2 linked regions of the Homo sapiens genome follow. The protein of the gene in region 1 interacts with the protein of each later gene in a pairwise test. Each region holds a gene or a part of one and is shown in the gene's direction. Other genes may lie near its edges.

Region 1 (3,911 bases):
TGTTGGACATAAGTCTGTTTCCACTTTCCCAGAGCAGTGGTTGGCTTTACTATCTTAATGTCTTCGAGTCCTGGTAAGCCAGGCCAACATGTAGTTTGCCACTTTCTTCAGTGGCTTCTGCTGCATGGAGATCATGACCTTTGTCCCGCTGACTTCTTGTAGCTGAAAAGACTGGGTTTTTGTTTTTTGCTAGTGTCTTTCAAGATCACTTTTTATTTCTCAGCTCTTGTTGGCTGGACCCTTTAAAAACCCTTAACAGGAAACAGCAACATCCTGCATCCCATTTTAAATCTGTTATTTTTATAGATTGCTGTCCAGTGAAGGAGACTGATTGCTATTTGTGATGTTTCTGTTCCACTTGTCTTTTTGTAAAGACATCACAGGAAGATGGAGGACCACACAGCTGTCAGGAGGAGGCTCAAACCAAGGTGCTCATCGCTCTGAACTTCCCCCTTTACATGGTTTCTGCCTTGGCCAGACACTTTTCCATGACCTTCTAATCTCCCTCTGATCTCACCATTCTTGCCATCTCTGCAACACTCATGGCTGTTTATACTTCATTTCCGTCTATTGTAATGGTTATGAGGAATCAGACTTGTCAGAGAATTCTGTAGGAGATGATATGTACATGGAAATCCTAGAGGCCATGACTTGGAAGAAGGATCTAATCAGGCCCTTAACTGTATCACTGACAACAGTAAAAATAACTGTAGATTTTAGAAAAATGAAATTTTTATTCTCAATTCTCCTCATTTCTTCTTTGATTTTGAAACAAAATGAAAGGGTAACATGAAAAACAGGCTAGAAACTGGAGCTTATTGCTCTCTAAGCAATGCAAATCACATCATTTTAATAAACTACAGAAGTCAAAACCGAGTTTTCATATTTTGCATGGGAAGTATCACATTTTTAAAAATTACTGCAGATAATCAAGTTTTCTTTGCCAATATGCTATGTTTTTGATAAAAGGAAGTAGAAAATAGCTATAGTTTGAAAATAATATATTTTAAAAAGAGGTGAGCCTGTATATTTTTTAGGCAAGCACTTTTCTTAGGGGAATTAGCTAAATTATTATCTCAATTTTCTATGTAGTTTAGCCTCTCAACACCGGTAGTAAAGTAGTCAAAAACCTACCTTTATATTTCTGGATACTTTGGTTTTTTTGATGCCAGACTAGCTTTCTGGAAACGTGTCAGTTGGCTACCAGGATCGGTGGCAAATTCCACTGCCAGGCTAGATTGGGGCAGGTGGGGAGAGAGAGGCACTATGTCTCTATCAGAAAGTCACTGAAGAAACACTGTTTTTGGACGAGTTCAAGCCTCATCTAGATTTTTAGTCCAGTAGAAGATCGCGACCACCTCTGCCCCTCCATAGCCTACAGCCAGAGTTTTAGAGTACCAGGCCTTGCAGCTTGGTGGAGATGATGTACAATGGATGCTACCTGGAGGCAGGGACTGTGTATTATAATGGCGCCGTCCCCTGTGCCTAGTACACCGTAGTTTGACACAAAATAAGCACTTTGTAAATTTAGTCCGAAGGAATGGAAATCTCATCCTACAATCCATTCAGTTATTAATAGAGCAACTGAGGCCCAGAGACGGGCAGTGGCCTGCCTGCCTACAGCTTCGTAGAGAGTTCTCAGCATGCTTACTTTTTTTTTTTGAGATGGAGTCTTGCTCTGTCGCCCAGGCTGGAGTGCAGTGGCGCGATCTTGGCCCACTGCAGCTTCCATCTCCTGGGTTCAAGTGGTTCTCCTGCCTCAGCCTCCCGAGTAGCTGGGACTACAGGCAGCCACCACCACGCCCAGATAATTTTTGTATTTTTAGTAGAGATGGGGCTTCACCATGTTGGCCAGGGTGGTCTCGAACTCCTGGCTTCAGGTGATCCACCCGCCTTGGCCTCTCAAAGTGTTGGGATTACAGGTGTGAGCCACCATGCCTGGCCCAGTGTTCTTTTCATGAAAATAAAATTTCTTTTTTTATATAGCATATGAGCTCATAACTGGCACTGTATAGCACCTGAGCATGTTTTGATTTGGTCTTTCTTGTTGAGGGGCCTTGTTACGTTATACCCTGGTGTCTAGACTTTGGCCCAAAACCTTTGAGATGGAGAGCCGGTGTCTGTGGTACTGTTTGCAATCTCTGGTTCTACACTCAGGGTTCATTCATGTAGATGCAAATACAGATGGTATCATAACTTCCAACCTCTCTGTTCCTCATCACAGCTGTTCAGTCTCGCTTGAAGACAGATTACGGAAGGACGAGGCCAAATCCAGATTTTGTGGTGTGAAAATTTACCCTGGTGTGTTATCACTACCAGGGGATCTGACCTCAGCCAGGAGCAGTGAGAGCCTCCTCTCCCCAGCCATGCTGAGCGCTGGCCTAGGACTGCTGATGCTGGTGGCAGTGGTTGAATTTCTCATCGGTTTAATTGGAAATGGAAGCCTGGTGGTCTGGAGTTTTAGAGAATGGATCAGAAAATTCAACTGGTCCTCATATAACCTCATTATCCTGGGCCTGGCTGGCTGCCGATTTCTCCTGCAGTGGCTGATCATTTTGGACTTAAGCTTGTTTCCACTTTTCCAGAGCAGCCGTTGGCTTCGCTATCTTAGTATCTTCTGGGTCCTGGTAAGCCAGGCCAGCTTATGGTTTGCCACCTTCCTCAGTGTCTTCTATTGCAAGAAGATCACGACCTTCGATCGCCCGGCCTACTTGTGGCTGAAGCAGAGGGCCTATAACCTGAGTCTCTGGTGCCTTCTGGGCTACTTTATAATCAATTTGTTACTTACAGTCCAAATTGGCTTAACATTCTATCATCCTCCCCAAGGAAACAGCAGCATTCGGTATCCCTTTGAAAGCTGGCAGTACCTGTATGCATTTCAGCTCAATTCAGGAAGTTATTTGCCTTTAGTGGTGTTTCTTGTTTCCTCTGGGATGCTGATTGTCTCTTTGTATACACACCACAAGAAGATGAAGGTCCATTCAGCTGGTAGGAGGGATGTCCGGGCCAAGGCTCACATCACTGCGCTGAAGTCCTTGGGCTGCTTCCTCTTACTTCACCTGGTTTATATCATGGCCAGCCCCTTCTCCATCACCTCCAAGACTTATCCTCCTGATCTCACCAGTGTCTTCATCTGGGAGACACTCATGGCAGCCTATCCTTCTCTTCATTCTCTCATATTGATCATGGGGATTCCTAGGGTGAAGCAGACTTGTCAGAAGATCCTGTGGAAGACAGTGTGTGCTCGGAGATGCTGGGGCCCATGATCTGGGAAGAAAAGTGTGGTCAGGACACTCTTGGGACGCTCTTTTGATAGCTCTCTATAAGGGAGCTGCTTTCCATGTCTTTTAAGATTTTCCTTCTTTTACACCAATGTAATGAATGAGCAACAGAAAATACGGATCAAAACCCAATACTATGTCTCTTTTGGCAATGCAAAGTATATTTTTTTAATGTACCACAGAAATCAAGGCTAGGGCTTCATGTTTGGTAAAAGAGGTATTATATTCTCTCTACATATAGCAAATAATTCATATATAAATCGTGTTTTTCCTATTATAAAAAGCAGAGATTAGGAACAATTCTGTCTACATATAGCAAAAATTCATATATAAATTGTGTTTTTCCTAGTATAGAAAACAGAGATTAGGAACAATTATAGTGATCATTAATTTTTATGAAATTTTACCTATACATTAATGTTAGTCATTTTAGATATGCTTTTTAAAAAGTATCAAATAATTTCCCCATTTCTCTGCTGTAATGTATCTAATTATCTAACTGAAAAACAAAACAAAACATCTTTATATTTCTGGAAGTTTCTTTGAGCCCTAGCCTTGGCTTTCAGAATAAAAATCAGGCTCACGCCTGTAATCCCAGCGCTTTGGGAGGCTGAGGCGGGCGGATCACGA
Region 2 (3,911 bases), on another chromosome or scaffold:
GCTCCTTGATGGCCACGGCGCGGTGGCCGTGGCGGGGCCGTGGCACCGGACCCGACCAGCCCACCACTCGCTTCCAGCGGGGCTGCAGAAGCACCGCTGGCAAGTTGGCGGGCGACACGGCCGAAGCCATAGTTCCGGGAAAGGGTGCGGTGGGGAGAAGTCAACAAGCGGGAAGGGAGCCCCTCAATTCCTTTCACACACCCCCTTTCGTCTAAGGCAGCTCTCACGGAGAAGCGGTTTCTCACACAGCGGTAGACGACTCCATGGAGGCCGCCATCTTAACTGCCCTCCTTCCCTTTGGCTCTTCCCTTTCTTCTCGCTCACCCCGTCTCCGCAAGAGCCGCCCGAAACTGTCGAGCGCCTAGGCTCAAGAAGCTGGAGGCCGCTGAGTCCCGTCGCCCCGACTACTTGTCCGGGCGCTCCCGCTTACAAGCTCGGGCGGGAGGCCCTGGGAGCCGCCATCTTGAGCCGCCTCTCTCTCCTCCCTTCCTCAGTCGTAGCCCTCCCCCGCCGGAAATGGCGGAGCCCCGGCCCGGTTCCCACACCCCCAAGTCCCCAGCACTGGCCGGCTTCCGGGGCGGGTGGAAAGGAGCCACAAGCGCCGCGGTCGTCGCAGCCCCGCCGGCGCTCAGACCACAATTGTGGGAGCCGCCATCTTGAGACCGTCCCGCTTCCCCGCCCAGCGCCTTAGTGCAGCCGCCGCTCCCGAAACAGCCTCGACACACCTAACGAATGGAGGCGGGCCGGAGGCCGGTGGAACCAGCTCGAGCTCTCGAGGGCCGTTTGGGGGCTCGCGCCGTACGGCTTGTGAAGTCTCGCGCCTCTCCCCTTAGTCCGCCTCTGCTGCTCAGGCTGCGCCTGCCGCCGTGGGAGCCGCCATCTTGAGACTAGCTCCCCGTTCCCCCCTATTCTCTTCCTCCTAGGTCAGTTCTTCCACTGCACACCAAACTCAAGGCGGTGTCCGATCCTCACTTCCCGCCTTATGACTCCTTCCCACAGGAGCCGCTTCAAAGAGCTAGAGTTAGGCCCCGAAGCGGCAACTGTACGGCAGAAGAAGCGGTAACGGCAGGGCGCTCATGCCTCCTCCCTGGGAGCCGCCATCTTGTGTGAAGAAGTAACAACTAAACATGGCGGCAGCGGCGCCGGCGGTCGGGCGAGGAGGCGGAGCCGGGTGACGTCACCGCTTCCCCCCACTCGCCCTCGCACCGCTTCGCCCCTGGGCCCAAGCCTCTTAAAGGACCCCTGCGCTGCCTCGCGGCGGGGGTGGGGGTCGGCGCTGCCGCGCGCTGGGCTAAAGCTCGAGTCGCGCTCAGATCAGGTGCAGGCGCAGGCGCGCCCCGCCCCACGGCCCCCCCACCGGGCGAGCCTCCACGCCTCCGCCCTGGGAGCCGCCATCTTGCCACTTCCCCTCGCCCGGCCGTCCGCGGGCGTCAATAGCGACTTTCAGCACAAAACAAAGATGGCGGCGGCGGCATCTCGGAAATGCCCGGATGAGACTGCTAACCCCTCCGACGCGCTCGGCCCCGCCCCCTTGGGAACGGTCTCTCGGGTTGATAAGGGACGCACGCCCGAAGAACTGCCTTTAACCAGCACTGGGGACAGCGGCACGCAGGTGGCCGGGGTTGGCGAACAGCCACTGCAGCCGCGCCTGCGGCCGGGAAGCGAGCATTTTCGCGCCCTGCACACCCAGCAGCCGCAGGAGGCGGCCCGAGGCGCGCCGCGGGGGAGCCGGGGGCGGGGCGACAGTGGGAGGCGACGCAGCCGAGCGCCGGCGCCCGGGGGTGGAGCCTCCGCCCGCTCCCAGGCTCCCAGGCTGCGGGGCCCGCCCTCGGGCGCCACCGCCTCCGCCCGCGCCGCAGCAAAATGAGCCGGGCCGCGCGCCCCAGACCGCCGCGCGCTCGGCCGCCCCCACTGCCGAGAGGCCCGCAGTCGGGCCGGTGGCGCACGAGCCGGGCGGGCGACCGCGGGAGGCGTCCGCGTCATCTCGCGTCACCTCGCCCCGCCCGCTTCCCAGGCTTCGAGTCCCGCCCTGCGCGCAGGCGCACCGGCGCTGCTCGGATCCTCCCTTTTCGGAGATTTGAATTTCCCCCAGCGAGGCGAGTGAGGCGAAATACCCGTATGGTGATAGCTGGCCTTTTCGCGCCAATACTGTAAGTGCTCACCGCAGCCCTGGGAGGTGGGTCCCGGCCTCGCCCCCACGTTTCGCCTCCTCTAGGAGGCCGCCCGGGCGCGGCGGCGGCGGCGGCGGCGGCGGCATCCGCCCTGCCACGCGCAGGCCGCAGCGCGGGGACCCAAGCTGCTGCCCGGGAGCGGCAGTCGCCAGTAGAAATGGACAGACCGGTCCTGTCAGAGCCTGTGGCTTTTGTTGTAAACGTCTAGAAGTTCAGTTAAATTACAAGATCTACCAGATCTACCGGCGGGCAGAATTATTACTTTGAAGTTACTGAAGTTATGCGTCCTGCTGGAAGACCTTGTAATTTAATGCGTTAGTAAAGAAGCACACGTCACCCTCTCACACATTTTCAACAATATTTTTAAAGTCGCCTCTCAACATATTACATGTATTTTGTAATCGTCTGTGTTTTAGTTCATGCAGTTGGAAGTATCCATTTGAGAAGGGACAAAGAGAAGAATTCTTGCCTGTCTGTGCCACCACCTGCTCTTTGTGACCTTGGCTAGTTACCTCACATATGTCCCCAAGTCCCCCACCCATGGTAAATAAGAAAACTAAGGCCTGATGCGTTGGCTCATGCCTGTAATCCCAACACTTTGGAAGGCTGAGGTGGGAGGATTGCTTGAGCCTAGCCGGGGCAACATAGCGAGACCCGGAGGCATGGTGGCACACGCCTGTGGTCCCAGGTACTTGGAACGCTGAGGTGGGAGGATGGCTTGAGCCAGGGAGTTCAGGGCTGCAGTGAGCTGAGATCGCGCCACTGCTCCAGCCTGGGCGACAGAGCAAGACCCTGTCTCAAAAACACACACACACACACACACACACACAAAAGCAGCTGCTGGTTTCCAAGGGCCTTGCCTGGAATCAGTCCAGAAGCTAAATTAATGTTAATTGATATTCCTTTATCCACAGAAAGACAGCAAGAAAGGTCATGCGGAGCGGGGGACATAACTAACCATAAATGCTAAAGGCCTGGAGGTGACAGTGCCTGCTGTTTAAACGCGTGCGGGAGAGTCTGGGGCCTTTAGCCAGGAGATTGTCAGGCTTCCCAGGGCTTCCCTGAAAGACCCCAGACCCAGGGGCCAGTGCTGTTGAGGTGTTGGCTTTCCCATGCCAGGCGCTGGGGGAAGCTGTGACGAGATTTGAGTGTCACATAATAAGGATCATGGCAATTCAAAGGTACAGGGAAGCTAGGCTATAAGGTAACCAGCTCGGTTTTCCTGGGGGTCTTGGACAGGTGCTTTGATTACATGGTCACTGTCAGCCCGTACCCCCGGTCAGATAGACTGAACCCCTGCAGCCGGAAAGAGGAGTTGCTTTCCATGCCCTTCCTGGAGTTCTTCCTCGATCAAGTTGACAGTGTTTGACTCTTGTTCCAGCTCTCCGCCCTGCTTGCTGGCAGGCAGGAGGGTCAGACTAGCATGGGTGCCATGGGGCCCTAGGTGGGTGCAGGGAAGGACCTGTAGACGCCATGCGGGGCCTCAGCTGGTGTCTCAGCTGGAGTCAGGAGCTGAACGGGGAAGTGCCTGAGAGGAAATGACAGCTGAGTCAAGGGCAATGGCCAGGCGAAGTGGGCAAAGGGCTTCCAGGACAGAGCTGGGCCTGAGGAGCTCACAGGGCTGGATGGGGATGGCACTTTAAGTCTGGCCAAGACTTTGGGACATGATCCAGGACATGGAATGGGAAGCTGGTCATGGAAGGGTGGAAAGCCAGGGCAGACATGATCCCATCCAGGGCT

The links.
Region 2: the proteins of TAS2R5 (region 1) and TMEM187 interact in binary tests that used the Homo sapiens proteins (3 or more experiments, as listed by UniProt).

Annotation. Positions count from the first base shown.
Region 1 is NC_000007.14:141,787,996-141,791,906, forward strand, and holds TAS2R5 (taste receptor type 2 member 5), read left to right. Parts: upstream 1-2,221; 5' UTR 2,222-2,366; coding exon 2,367-3,266; 3' UTR 3,267-3,372; downstream 3,373-3,911.
Region 2 is NC_000023.11:153,970,711-153,974,621, forward strand, and holds the start of TMEM187 (transmembrane protein 187), read left to right. Parts: upstream 1-2,043; 5' UTR 2,044-2,150; intron 2,151-3,911. Other genes in the region: HCFC1 (host cell factor 1), read right to left, coding at 1-130.